Linked DNA regions of Homo sapiens. The protein of the gene in region 2 interacts with the protein of the main gene of each other region in a pairwise test. Each region holds a gene or a part of one and is shown on either strand. Other genes may lie near its edges. The genes, in order: SCAMP1 and DNAJC13.

What was found.
Region 1: the proteins of DNAJC13 (region 2) and SCAMP1 interact in binary tests that used the Homo sapiens proteins (3 or more experiments, as listed by UniProt).

The regions. Positions count from the first base shown.
Region 1 is NC_000005.10:78,363,525-78,370,616, reverse strand, and holds part of SCAMP1 (secretory carrier-associated membrane protein 1), read right to left. Parts: intron 1-7,092. UniProt on the Homo sapiens protein: Functions in post-Golgi recycling pathways. Acts as a recycling carrier to the cell surface.
Region 2 is NC_000003.12:132,419,923-132,428,291, reverse strand, and holds part of DNAJC13 (dnaJ homolog subfamily C member 13), read right to left. Parts: exon of another isoform or gene 6,575-8,369; intron 1-6,574.

The DNA.
Region 1 (7,092 bases), on a different chromosome or scaffold from region 2:
TAATAGACAAAAAACAGAAACAACTTAGGTGTCCAGCAATGGATAAAGAAACATTACTAATTCTGAAAAGCACCCAAAGCCAAATGCCAAGGAGAAGGGGATTACTGGATTGCTCTCTGGGTATAGATCTGCAAGCCTTCTGCACAGAAAGGAGAACAGGGTTTTCCACACCAGTCTACACATATGAAGTCAAACGCTGCAGGACATTACAGACTGCCTCAGTAGGAACAACTCAGAGACTTGTTACAAGGTTAAATCTAACCAAACTCCATGTCACCTTTTATATCCCACACCCACTGAAAGTTGGAAAATTCTCCCTTGTGATTTAAAAACATCTTACAATATTTGCAAGTATATTACTCCACTACACCACCAAAAACTGTAGGTCTAAATACAGGCTTAACTCTATCACCCTTTTGGCAAGAAAATGTTACTTTACACTTACGGTTTAGCAATTCTGGTTGAAACAGACAGACTCACTCAGGTCACCCCAAATGCTGGGAGCAGGAGAATATTTTAAAGATATATACAGAAAGAAGAACGCCAGGTTTCACAGAGATTGAAATTCTTCATGACATGGCACATCCCTTCTAGTTAAAAAACACCTCTAATGAAGGACAGGAATTCTTGAAAATGGCCTTCAAAAGCCTAGTGAGATAACTGCTATTCCACTGCTTTGGACAAGTACCTTTGTTAAGATCAGTCAGCTGAGGCCAGGGTGGCAAAAGTCACACCCTAGAGGACATGATCACAAATGTGTAAGCTACCATGAGGGCTGCTCCCTCAGCAGAAGCTGAGGCTCAGAGCATAGCTGGTCTCTGAACATAAAGCATCCTCTCTAGCTGAACTGATCATACTTAATTCCAATATCCAATATGGTCGATATATTAGAACAGAGAAAATGCAGGAATACCTAGTTTCACTGTACTTCACAGATATTGCCTTTTTTAAAAAAATAAATTGAAGGTTTGTGGCAACCCTGCATCAAGCAAGTCTCGCAGCACCATTTTCCCAACAGCATGTGCTCACTTCACATCTCTAGCGTCACACTACGGTAGTATTCGCAATATTGCAAACTTTTTCATTATCATTATGTCTGCTATGGTGATCTGTGATCAGTGATACTTGATGTTACTACTGTAATTGTCTTGGGGTGCCACAAACCATGCCCATAACACTGCAAACTTACTTGATAAATGTTATGTGTCCTGGCCGGGCACGATGACTCACGCTTGTAATCCCAGCACTTTGGGAGGCCAAGGCAGGCAGATCACCTGAGGTCAGGAGTTGGAGACCAGCCTGGCCAACATGGTGAAACCCCGTCTCTACTAAAAATACAAAAAGTAACCAGGTGTGGCGGTGCACGCCTATAGTCCCAGCTACTCGGGAGGCTAAGGCAGGAAAATCGCTTGAACCTGCGTGGTGGAGGTTGCAGTGAGCCGAGATCACGCCACTGCACTCCAGCCTTGGAGACAGAGAGAGACCCTGTCTCAAAAAAAAAAAAAAAATTGTGTGTCCTGACTATTCCACCAACCAGTTGTTCCCATTCTCTGTCCCTCTCCTTGGGTCTCCCTATTCCCTGAGACATTACAATATTGAAATTAGGCATCTCTGTAGGTTATCCAACTTCTGCTTGAATTTCTGCAAGTGCTGGAGAATGCCCTACCAAAAGAGCATTGTCAGGCCATGGTAGCAGATTTTTAAAAGTCTGTTTGGACAAAATTTACCTTTACCTTCAAGTAAACTTTGCCAGTTAACCTTAGATTCTTTTTCTAAAGCAACAAATAACAAGTTTATTCACTTACCTAAGAACACTTTAAGTATCTGATGGGAGCTCTCCTATTTCCCTTTAGCCCTCTGTAGACTAAATCCACTGAGTAATTGAAACTTAAATTGTTCTTCCTAGAACTTGATTCCAGTCCCATGACCATTCTGACTGTCCTCTTTGGGCATATCCTAGTATTTTCAAACCACTCTTTAAATATGCACTTGCAATTGAGAAGAATACCCAGCTATTAGACCAGAACAGAATACTATAGGATTATTAATTTTAAGGAACTGATCACTAATTTCACTAAGCCAATATATATTTTTCAGCAACTATATCACACTGGTGGTTCATATTAAGGAAATAACCAATAAATTATTTGGATCTGCATTTATCACTATTAAATATTAATCATAGTCCAAAAAAAACTTTTGGTAATATCAGCACAAGAACAGTTTACTTTCGAAATTTTCATAATCACCATCATCTCATATGACTGTAAAGCTACAGGGCCAAAATAAAACTGTGTTCAAATCTTAGTTTTGTCACGTGGCACAGCAGCCTCCTATGGCAGCAGCCTTCCCCTGGCCATATGAGATGCTCAACCTAGACAAAAGTTTTCTAAACATCTGAAGAATACCGACCATGGCAACGGACACTTCACCCTAAATGAAGATTGTCTCAAAAAGAATGACAAATGTGGTTTTTAAGGCATGGTTTGAACTCTGGTAAGATTAAAAAGAAACTGTTAAGAGAGTTGTGACAGCCTGGACTAAAGAAACAGTTCAAAATTAATAGAAACTTCTGGGCTCCCAATTTTCAATGGGCAAGAAGCAGGCCAAAAATGCTACTCAGCTGCCAAAAGGGCTCATTCTTATAGAAAAAAATAAATAAAGGACCTCTCAGAGGGTGGAGCCAAAAGCAGAAGAAAATAACAGGTGAAGGAACCAATACGAGGTAGCAGAACTGGGCCCTAATCAAGAAACATTCATTGTCCCCAATGTAGGGGACCCTAACAACACGTGCCTGGCTAGATTTCAGAACTGCTATGCATCAGCAGGTGCTACACGCCTCCCACTCTTTCCCTATTTGAATGGGAGTGTCTAGTGAAGTTATCCTACGACTACCTCGCCATTTTATACTAGGTGTATCTTCAGATCATAGGTCTGTCTCCAGTCAAGAAGTGGAGCCTATTGCTTGCCACTCCTTTTAAAATCTAGGCTGAACTTGTGCCTTGTTTTGACCAACAGAATACAGCAGAAGTAGCATATGATTCAAGAAGCCTTGTAGATTCAGCTCTTGCCCTCTGGGAGCACTGCTGCTACTATGCACAAAGCCCATTTATTACTAGTAGAGAGGCTACATGAAAGACAGCTAATTGCTGTGCCCACTGACATCTCCAGGTAACCAGCAGGCACTTGAGTAAGGATATCTGAAACCATAAACCAGGTGACTGAAGCCACTTTAGTGACTCCAGAAAAGAACATTAAAAAAAAGAAAAAACCTGCCCAGCTAAGTCTAGCGCAATTAACAGAATCGTGAGCAAATAATTGTTATTTTAAGCCATTATATTTTGGGATTGTTACATAGCAACAGATAAGTGAGACAGTGGTAAATAAGATAATGGTGCATCTTACAAAGGATGGCATCTTAAGTTGATGAAATATAACAGCAGCTCAATATGTGCTTTTTAAAAACATTAACATGAGGAAAAATGAGCAGGAATTCATGCAGTTGACATGAACGTAAAATAACACAGGCCCACAAACTGCAACCACTATGTTCCAGATTAATGTTAAAAGACAGTTTTCAAAATGTGACAATCACAAAGGAAATCCTCAGAATACTTTCCTAGTGCTATCCAATCTCCAAACTCAAAATTTTATATCTTTTTTTTGTTTGTTTTTTGGGTTTTTTTTTTTTTTTTTGAGACAGGGTCTCACTCTGTCACCCTCCCGCCTCAGCCTCCCAAGTAGCTTAGATTACAGGTGTGCACCACCACACCCAGCTAACTTTTAAATTTTAGTAGAGATGGAAGTCTCACTATGTTGCCCAGGCTGGTCTCAAACTCTTGGGTTCAAGCAATCCTCCTGCCTTGGCTTCCCAAAGCACTGGGATTACAAGCATGAGCTATCAAGCTCAGCCTCAAAATTTTAAACAGATAAGGGAGGAGTGAAATCAACTTGTAAGTATCATTGTCAAGGTAAATGAAATAAGATGGATAACATTCTTGATGTTACAAAATGAAAACTAAGGTCTGAACGTTTGTTTCCTTAAAAATCACATGCTGAAACCTATCACCAACGTGATGGTATCAGAAGGTGAAGACTTTGTGAGGTGACTAGGTCAGCAGGGCTCTGCTCTCAAGAATGGGATTAATATCCCTATTAAAAAAAGGACCCAGAGGCCAAGTGTGGTGGCATACACCTGTAATCCCAGCACTCTGGAAGGCTGAGGCAGGTGGATCACTTGAGGCCAAGAGTTCAAGGCCAGCCTGGCCAACATAGTGAAACTCCGTCTCTACTAAAAATACAAAAATTAGCTGGGCATGGTGGCATGCACCTATAATCCCAGCTACTCGGGAGGCTGAGGTAGGGGAATCGCTTGAACCCAGGAGATGGAGGTTGCAGTGAGCCGAGATGGCACCCCTGCACTCCAGCCTGGGCGACAGAGCAAGACTCCGTCTCAAAAAAAAAAAAGAAAAGAAAAGAAAAGGGCCCCAAAGAGCTGCCATCCCCTTCTGCCATGTGAGGACACAAAGAAGATGCCATCAATGAGGAAAAGGACTCACCATACACTGAATCTGCTGGGACCTTGATCTTGGACTTCCTAGCCTCCAGAGTTCTGGGCAATAAATTTCTGTTGTTTATAAATTACCCACTGTGAGGTACTATACTTTGTTACAGCAGCCCAAACAGACTAAGACAAATGAATAACACACTTGAATTATGGGTCATTTTCAATTTTAAATTTCAACTCTTACAATGCCACCAGATTACTGTAACTTAAAAGATAACATAAGTGAGAATGCTGAATTTTAGGCCATTTCTAAAAAAAATTTCAATAGACTAAAATTAATTTTTGAGGCCAAAACAAAATGGACACTATGCTCAATTTTAACATGGAGATATTTTATTAGGGAGGAACTACGTGTTGTGAAAAAGCACCAGAATTCAGACAACCTTGGTCTAGTCTAGCAGGTTGATGTAGGCAAAGCACTTAATTATTTTTAGCTTTGATTCCTTGACTATGATCAGTCAAACAGCTACTACCAGCACTCCAGAAGATCCAAAAGTAACATAAATTTCACTAAATTCATAGCTAAGCATATAGAGATTATTAAACAGAACTTTTTTTTTTTTTTTTTTTTTTTTTTGAGATGAGTCTCGCACTGTCGCCCAGGCTGGAGTGCAGTGGTGCCATCTCAGCTCACTGCAACCTCCACCTCCCAGGTTCAAGCAATTCTCCTGCCTCAGCCTCCCAAGTAGCTGGGATTACAGGTGCCCGCCACCACGCCAAGCTAATTTTTTGTGTTTTTGGTAGAGACGGGGTTTCACCATGTTGGCCAGGCTGGTCTCGAACTCCTGACCTCGTGATTCGCCCGCCTCAGCCTCCCAAAGTGCTGGGATTACAGGCGTGAGCCACTGCGCCTGGCCATTAAACAGAATTTCTTAAATTACTATTAATACTAAATATTAGTACCTAATTAAAACCACTATACATTAAGCTCTTACTATATGCTAAATGTATGTTCATCTAATCCTATTTACAATCCTATAGAGAATGTACTATTACCCTATTTTACAAAATAGTAAACTGAGTCTTTCTTTTTTAATACTTCTAGGGTACATGTGCACAACGTACAGGTTACATATGTATACATGTGCCATGTTGGTGTGCTGCACCCATTAACTCGTCATTTACATTAGGTATATCTCCTATCCTTCTCCCCTCCCCCCACCCCATGACAGACCCCGGTGTGTGATGTTCCCCACCCTGTGTCCAAGTGTTCTCATTATTCAATTCCCACCTATGAGTGAGAACACGCGATGAGTAAACTGAGTCTGAAAGAGGTTAAGTAACTTTCCAAGGTCTCACAACCAGTTAGTGTCAAAGCCAGGATCAAGCCCAGATCTTTTCAAATTCTTGAGCCAAAATTTTTTAATCCTATCCTCTGCTGCCTCCCCTCAACTCTAACCTCCAAATACAAAACAAGAATTTTGGTATCAAAATGCAACCAGGGAGCACATACAGTGTCACCAGTAATGGACTAGAAATCAGGAGACCTAAGTTCTAATGCCAATTCTACACTACCTACACATGGGCACAAGACAATGAGCAAGTGTGCCTCTGTGGGCTTTGTTTTTTAATCTATGAGATCTGACTGAATATATTTTAAGAATTTGCCCCCCCAGCTGTGAAATTCTAATTCTCTTCATATTTTAAAAATTAATTTAAATGTTATTTCCATAATGAACTATCTTATTCAATCAATTATCATGTTAATATGCAAAAGCATAAAGCATGAAAATTTTCTGACCACTTACTAATTTCTTCCTTTTATGAACAAACTGCACTTGTTCCGGCACTTAACCATACACTCTTATGCTGACTTGTAAGAGCCTATATTGCTGACCTCTGCTGGTTATTAAACTCTCCCCTTTCATTCATTTTCCAAGCATATTTGTCTCACTGTTAGACTAATAGCCATAAGGACAGAGACACTTCTTCAGTATTTGTTGAATGAATAAACTCAACAGAAAACAAAGGACATACAGCAATTCTTCAATAATTACATGTTGACTATACAGAAAATATTTTTCCCTCTATAGCTTTAAAACCCCATTTTAACAGCTCAAGAGTGGATCCTCAGAAACTTCTATATAATTAATCACCTATTTTCTTTTCGATCACTACAGATTTCCAGTTATTCCAAGTTTCTTGATGCGCAATGAAAGCCATTCAAATTTCATAAAACCATTCACTAAGCCTAGGAAAACCACTAGAATATAAAGCAGGGGCTCAACAAAAAAAAATGAACTGAATCCAGCAAATAGCCTTACAAGAACCAATAAAATCAAGTAAACCACTATGGTTATATTATATAAGGAGAATAGACTCAAACTACTTTCATGATACGGCACAAACGAAGATGCTTGCAGAAGTATTCCTAACATAAAAGTGAAGGAAAAGAAATGCTAAAAAATGAAAAAGGCAATGGAAAACAAATAGGATTTAATGAAAAAGAAATTAGCATAGTTACCAAATGCGAAATATCATATACTTGAAAATAAGAGCTTTATCTTCAAATACTGCAAATAAAA
Region 2 (8,369 bases):
TAACTCTTTTAGACCACGAAGATACTTTTAGACACGCACGTAACTCGCTAATGAAGGTAATGGCAATGCACAAAGATCAGAAAATGTACCAACTATGTATCATTCAAAGTGAGAGGTAGAATAATTTCAAGATAATAATTGGCAAATGAGTGAAGACAAGTCTAGAGGTCCTCCAAGTACAGTAGTCAGGAATCATTCAATCTGGGAAGACCCTGGAATACCTCCCTAGGGCACTGATCACAGAGCTGCCATTCCACATGCTATACGTTAACTAGAGACTAGCACAACAGGCTACATTAACATTCCATTAAAATGATGTTAATAATCTATTTATTACCAAGATAAAGCTGGAGAATTTTTATAACTGCCATTTACTGGCTGCGTGACTTTGAACAAAAGTTTCTGAATTTATCTGAATTATAGTACGTCTATAAAATAGGAATAACTGTCCCGAAGGGCTATGGTGAGGACTAAATGAGATAACCCAAAAAAAGAAGTTATTTTGGGTAATTCTACTATATCTTATTTTCAAGAACTTACCAGCTCTTGTACCTAATACAGCATTTTGGGGGGAAATTCTATTAAATTACTTGATTTTCTCTAAATCTTTTATTAATTTCAATCCCTCTAGTATGCAATAGATATCACCTAGAATGTTCACCTTCAAAAGTACAGTGTTCTATTGATTTAATCAGCATTCACTTTTACTTAACCATTCAAAAATAACTATAACAATATATATTTCTTAAACTGAATGATGTACATGAGGATGCCATTTATTATTGTTACTGTCATTATTATTTTATTGTTACAATTTATGTTTCCCATAAAACGTTTTTAAAAAGAAAAAAATATTGCCGGGTGCGATGGCTCACGCCTGTAGTCCCAGCACTTTGGGAGGCCAATGCAGGCAGATCGCTTGAGTCCAGGAGTTCAAGACCAGCCCAGGCAACATGGCAAAACCCTGTCTCTACTAAAAATACAAAAAATTAGCTGGGTGTCATGGCACAGGCCTATAGTCCCAGCTACTTGGGGGGCTGAGGTCAGAGGACCACTTGAGCCTGGGAGGCTGAGGCTGCAGTGAGCGAGCCCTCATCTTGCCACTGCACTCGAGCCTGGGAGACAGAGTCAGACCCTGTCTCAAAAAAAAAAAAAAAATATATATATATATACACACACACACACGTGCACACACACACACACACACACACACACATATGTATATATAAACACCAAGATAATCAGGATAGATGAAATTTTTAAAAATCATCTTGTCAACTATAACCCAACACTTAAGCTTGTCTTTTATTTCAACTTTATTCCTACAAAATACTATTACAAGTCAATCTTATTTACTACATTTTTAATATTCCCCACTTAGGTATTTGAAATTTCAGTTGTTAGAACTGTTTCCTTACATGTATCCAACCTAATATTTTTAAATTTATGTTTGATGGCTACAAATTAACTATGGCTTGAGAAACTTTCAAGAAAAAAAAAACTTCACAAAATAAATTTAATCTGCAGTCAATATTTCCTCTGTACATTAATAAGCTCTAAAAGTGATTCAAAAAAATCATCACTTATAGGCAAAAACTCTTAAGCAACCATTGATTTCCACTATTTATGATGAAAAAAATCTGTAAAATTTCTAGTATCAGAAGCTCAAGTATCAAGCAGGTAATATCAGTAACAGTCAAATATAAGCACATGCTATCAACAACCACAAACTGTCCAACTAAAAAATGTAAACAGTTAAATGGGATCTTGAATGAGATCTTGGTAGCAGCTGTATCACTAGCATTTGCCATTCTGCCAGTTGTTTAGAGGCTATTCGAAATAGCAGGAATTTATCTGCTCAAACTAACGTCACTTAAATTTCATCTCCTTCATTCCTGCAATTGTGTTCCATATTTCAAATTCTCAAAGACCCATGATTCTTTCTGATGAGGAAAAATCAAATTTACATGCCTTTTGTAATTAAATTGCATTGAAAGCATCTCCAATTTTTGCGAGTCAGCTTCACTTGTTTTCATGCTATATCCTAAATTACACCACCAAAGAAACTTCTGTTTGTTCTTTTTATAGAACTGTCCTATGGGTTAAAAAGTCAAATTCAGGGCAACACAGGCATTTTGGCTAGATTCACCTCTCTCAATGAATACTACTGCATCATGCTTTCGAACAACACAATATTCTTGCATTCTCTAATTTATTACTGGCAGTAATACTGGCAAACCATTTAAGATCATTTATGGTTAAAATGAGAATGATCTTTTAGAAGACACATAATTTTGACAGAAAACCACAGGATTTGGGAGTCCAGTGAGAAGAAGCCTACATCAAGTTGACACTAAGAACAAAAGCAAGATGAAGGGACTCAACACCACAGACACTCAAGCCAATTACGGTCAAGCTATAAGCAAAAAAATTTACACACACAGCAAAATTAAGTATATACACATGGCTTGTGTTAAGCAAAAACACAAGCAGAACACTCATTTAACTAGGGATGAATGAATACACTTAGAAAAAAATACACTAGTGAAAGAAGGATTGGCATTAATCAGGCTAGTCACCTGTTTAAAGCACGTATTTAGCATCATCAACTGGAAGTAATTTTTACACAAATATGACAACTTGCAGAGAACAGGTAAGCTACTGATTTTCCCATTTTGAGTCTGTAAAATGCAAGAACGGAACTTACTTTCATTAGCTCTGCCCTCAATAACTAAAAATGTGAATTTGTTTTGAAATGCATAAAAAATAAGATGGATTGATGGAAAGATGGACAGATCTGTGATAAAGCAAGTACAGTAAAATGTTAATGTAAAAACCTTTAGGTGGGCATGTGGGTATCTAATGTAAAGTTCTTTCAACCTGGCTGTAGGTGAAAATGTTTACAATATGTTGGGTGAAAATTGTGGAGTTTGCCTTTTCTGATCAAACTCTCCTACAACAGAAACAATGCTACATTCCAAAACCACACTTAAAATGTAGCAGACATTCACATCATAGGAACTAATTTATGAACGTAATACTTCCTACAGCTATATCTTACCAAAAAGGGAGGGGTAGTAAGGAGAACCATGGAAAGACTAACCCTTTGAAAAAATAACTAATAAGAGTAATAGATAGAATATCTTATATTGGCTTCTTGAGGATCTAGGTTTGTTTGTAACTGGATTCAAAATCTGAGTAAATCATAGCACTAGATTAGTTTGGTTTCAAACAAATGGTAAAAAATATGAATGGCTAACAGAATGTTCATTTTTACCCAGATTAAATAGCTACAACTAAACTGTTTAGATAGAATGTGCTGTGTATGGGGGAAACTGCCATATGAACTTTAACCCTATTTTTAAATTTTAGCTTCATTTTAATATATGACTCAAGTACAGGTAAAAGCATTTTCTTCTAAATGAACAACAAATCAGTATGTGTAATATGTATGATACCAACAGGAATCTTAAAACAAACCATAAATACATCACAAAGATTTTAGTACCTACCATCTTAGCCTTCCTTAACTTACTGAAGAACCCGATACCTCCAGAGATAGATGTCGTTGAAGAATAAAAAAAGCCAGCGGTAATATCAAATTTCATCTGATAATCATATCTTCAAATAATTGCCCAGATATTTTAAAGTGAAGTGATTGTACTGTCACATCATAATCAACTTTTAACTAGTTTCACTACCATAGGGTAGCTGAAATAATATGAGATCTCCACCATTGTTTTTAAAAACTTGATTCCTTTCTATTACAAACTGAGTATATATTAATGAAATACAGGGCAAGAAAAATTCAAAAGCAACCCCTAAATCTGAAGAAACACTTAATGGGAGGAGGGGACAAGCATACTTACCATAGCAGTTACTTTTTTTGACCTCTTCTATTCAACAGTATAAATCAAGTATTGAAAAGAGACCTGTCTCTTCTATTTCTATCACATGTATGCTCATTTCATCTGAGGGGAATAATTTGTATTTCTGACAAAACAGAAGTTTATCTGTTGTTAAAAAAATTCAAATTTTCTGTGAAAGATGTATTACTATGACCCTTCCCTTTCCAAAGCTTAAAAATGCCTTAAAATACTCACCTGAAAGCTTTCTTTCCAGAAACATGTTCACTTAAGCAATGCTTTGAAATCATTGCTATTGATCATTTACATATTTTTAGTTTATACACATTATTGTAACTTTATAGACCTAATTTCTATTTCATTTTATCTTTGAAGCATAACCTGGCTTATGCAAGAACAAACTATACTATTTCTGTAAGGTCTTCAGCTTATCAACTTATTAAGCTTATCAGCTTATTAAGGCACTTAATAATCATGCTCTACTATGGTAAACAGGCCCTGAAATGGGCAAAAGAAATTTTTAGCAGCCATATTTTAACTTGTTGCTGTTTTTCCTATCATTACAGTAAATGCATAATGCGGGACTAAATTTCCTAAGCTTTTAACACATACAACTTGAAGACAGTTTTACAGAAAGCATCCTGAAAACCCAAACACTGTTCTTTTTATACTATTAAAAGACAAAAGTTTAATTTGCTACAATTTCCCCTTCACTCAATACAAAATAGCAAAAACATACATTTCTAGTTTAGTTCTGAAATATCCCTATTATTCCTACCTCTTCTGTGGCGCTTTACAGTTTATAGAACACTACCAAATTATCTTAAAAAAGCAAAGTTTCACTTTTAAAATTAAGCCCATTAGTGCTAAGATTTGGGGGGAAAATGGCTTATCTGCTCTAAGATTTGATAAACATTCAAAATACATTCTGTAGCTTGACTAGAAGTTTGAGGAGAGAAACCCCATAGCCTTAGATGACTAAGGAATACAATAAAAGTGAGAACACCATGTATAAGCGTTTAAATGTATTACAGAATACATGAAATATTAGAGAACATCTCCTCCATTCATAACCTCACCAACCCTTCCATTAAGTTGTGGCAACTAGAGCTGGCAAAAATCAAAGCGTCGAAATAATTTTTTTTAAGAGACAGGGTCTTCCTTTGTCACCCAGACTGAAACGCAGCAACACAATCATAGCTCACTGTAATCTCAGTCTCCTGGGTTCAAGCAATCCTCCTGCCTCAGCCTCCCGAGCACACGTCACCACAGCCAGCTAGTTATTTCATTTTTTGATGAGACGGGGTTGCTCAAGCTAGGTTGGAGCTCCTGGCCTCGAGTGATCCTCCCGCCTCAGCCTTCCAAGTGCTGGGATTACACGTGTGATTATTGTGCACCCAGCTAAAATAATTCTGGATTGCTTTAGGGGTTTTGTTTTCTATCTGATAATCAAAATATCAAACTCTTATTAATCCATTGCAAAGAGATATTACCACTGGGCATGTGCTAAATATGTGACTAGGCAGTGTTCTTCTAAGGGCAACTTGAGTGCTTAAACTGTAAAATTCCACTGACTTTAAAGCTCACTCTTTTTCACAAGTAGTCCATGAAAGTACAAGTAAAACTCCCATATGTCGACTATTGAATAAAGAGCATCTGAAAAGAATTACTAGCAAGCTATATGGTTTTATTGACTGAACCACACCTAAATGTACCTTTGCACAGGTAACTATCTTAAATTAGCAAAGATGATCATAACCATGTTGGTTTAAACTATTTGTTACAAAGAAATCTAACTCAGTTACTCTCAAAGGAGTTCCTATGATTAAGAATCACTCCACATAACAAGAAGTGTTATAAATTGGCATATGCTGGGTATGTGAACACTGCTGAAACAGAAAAAATATGTTGAAAACCACTGATTAAAATTTTGAACTAAAGTAATGGTTGGGCTAGGATGCCATCCCATCTGAGGCACTATGACTGGGAGCACTACTAGCATTTAGTGGATGAGACTAGATATTCAACATACATTACAGTCCCAAAGATAAGTACCATCCACACCATACGACTTTCAAGTGTCCAAGTGAGCCAGGTATGGTGGCTCACACCTGTAATCCCAGCATTCTGAGAGGCTGAGGTGGGAGGATTGCTTGAGCTCAGGAGTTTGAGACTAGCCTGGGCAACATAGTGAGACCTCGTCTCTACTAAAAATAATAATAATAAAAAAAAGTTAGCTGGGCATGGCGTGCCTATGGCTCCAGATACTAAGGAGGCTAAGGTGGGAGGATCGCTTGAGCCCAGGAGATCAGGGCTACAGTGAGCTATGATCGTGTCACTGCATTCCAGCCTGGGCAACAGAGTGAGGTCTGAAAAAAGAAAAAAAAAAAGGAAAAAGAAAAAAGTCCAGAAGTCCAAATGCTTAGTTGGTTAGTCATGTAGGCAAAAACCTATTTATAATGAATGAATCCCAGACTCTAATTGTTTTATATATAACTCACCAAGTACATTTTGCAGGGTTTAATATACAGAGATTTTTCCAGGAATGTGGCTGCAATGTAAATTAAGAGATTATACTTTATTAACCCTGTTCTTTTCTGACAATGCTAATAATCTCAATTGTGGTATTTGAGTCACCAATGTGACAAATCTGTAGACATCAACATTTCTGTCAAAAATCAAAATGGGCCAGGCATGGTGGCTCACACCTGTAATCCCAGCACTTTGGGAGGCCTGGGTGGGTGGATCACTTGAGGTCAGGAGTTCGAGACCAGCCTGGGCAACATGGTGAAACTCTGTCTCCTAAAAATACAGAAAAAAAAAAAAATCAGCCCAGCATGGTGGCAAGCGCCTGTAGTCCCAGCTACTCAGGAGGCTGAGGCAGAGGTTGCAGTGAGCCAAGATCGTGCCACTGCACTCCAGCCTGGGTGACAGAGCAAGATTGTCTCTCACACACACAAAAAAAATCTCAAAATGATTCCATGTAAAGATACAAGCCTCTGACACGTCCTTTGTGTATTTTGGTATAATCATACTTAACTATTTACATATTGAAATGCATATAGTCAATTCTGCTATAATGCTTTCTTGATCATGTGAATTTTAACAGGATTGGTGTATTACTGAACAATTTGAGCATAATGAAAATGTCACATTTGCTTATAGTGATTCTGTCCCAACACTAAGTGAACGCAGAAAATTGTACCCAACTGAGTCATGCAGGAATTCACAAAATACACACACACACTTCAGGTGGTCAATGAACCACATACATTCACATATATGTTACTAATTTTCCACTCCATCTTATAACTTTTTTTCCTTCTACTACTTCACAGTAATTCAGAAACTATAACTCCATCCAATGCTCACTGCATTGTTTGCTCAAACTTTTTCAAGGCAAAATGTCATTATTATAGTATTTAACATGTACAAAACAGTTCTTTTTAAGCTCCTATCTTTTTAAAAAATGTATAATGATGACTGCTCTTTCTCTTGGGAGTTTTTTTCATGGGCCTCATAATTTTTGGTTAAAAGCTGGACATGTTGTGTAGGAGTAGAGATTGAGGTAATTTTTATGACTGGAAATGAGCACGCCTGTTCTTTGTGAGGCCTTTGGTGAAGGGTTTGTGTTAATCTGGTTAGGAGTTGGACTTAGTTTATGATTTGTTTTTGCCATAGTTATCCTCAGTGTATTACAGCCTTCATGAATCTGCAGAACAGTTTGTCTCTCTGGTGGGCGATGGTTTACTAGAGCAATGCCTGTTTGATTCTTTGTGTTGTGCCTCTTTGCATAATCTTGTTCCTTTCCTAGTAGTATTTTGTGGGTTACTTGTTACTGAAAGCTTCTTAGCTTGGTGGCAGGGGGTTGGGGGTGGGGGATACAGTCTGATGTTCTGATTAAGTCTAAGTCAAACACTGTGTTCCTGAATCTCAGGAGGGCAGCACTCTCGGTTCTGTTGACCACTCCCGACTGCAGTTTTGGGCTCAGGGCCCCTCCTCCAGGCATAAGATTCTCTCCCACTTCTCATCTACCCCCTGAATGTTCACCAATGGGGCCAACAGAGATACCCTTCTCCCCAGAGATTAAAGCTTTTTTCCATAGAAGAGGCAGAGGGGAAGAATCACAGCAGTTTCTTGACCCTCTTAAAAGTTCTGTTGCTGTTCCTCTCCCTCTCAATCTGCACAGCAGACTCACCCAGGGTTCTTTCCAGTCTTTTCTAGTAGACCCAGGGAGGTTTGTGGATAAGAGTTTGCAAGATTGTGCATTCAGCTTTCATCATGCTTTTTGTCCAGTTGTGTCTGAAGACGGTAAACAGAAATTGACATCTACTCTCTGTAAGCACTGTCTCTCAAATTTTCAGCCAGTGGTTTTGCTCTGTGGACTCAGCTCTTTAATAGATTTCAAAAAAGTCATGAATTTGTAGTGTAGGTCTTTTTTTGTTGCAGAAGTGAGAGCAAAGCTTCTTTTTTTGTCTCAGGGCCAAAGCCAGAGGTAGTTAC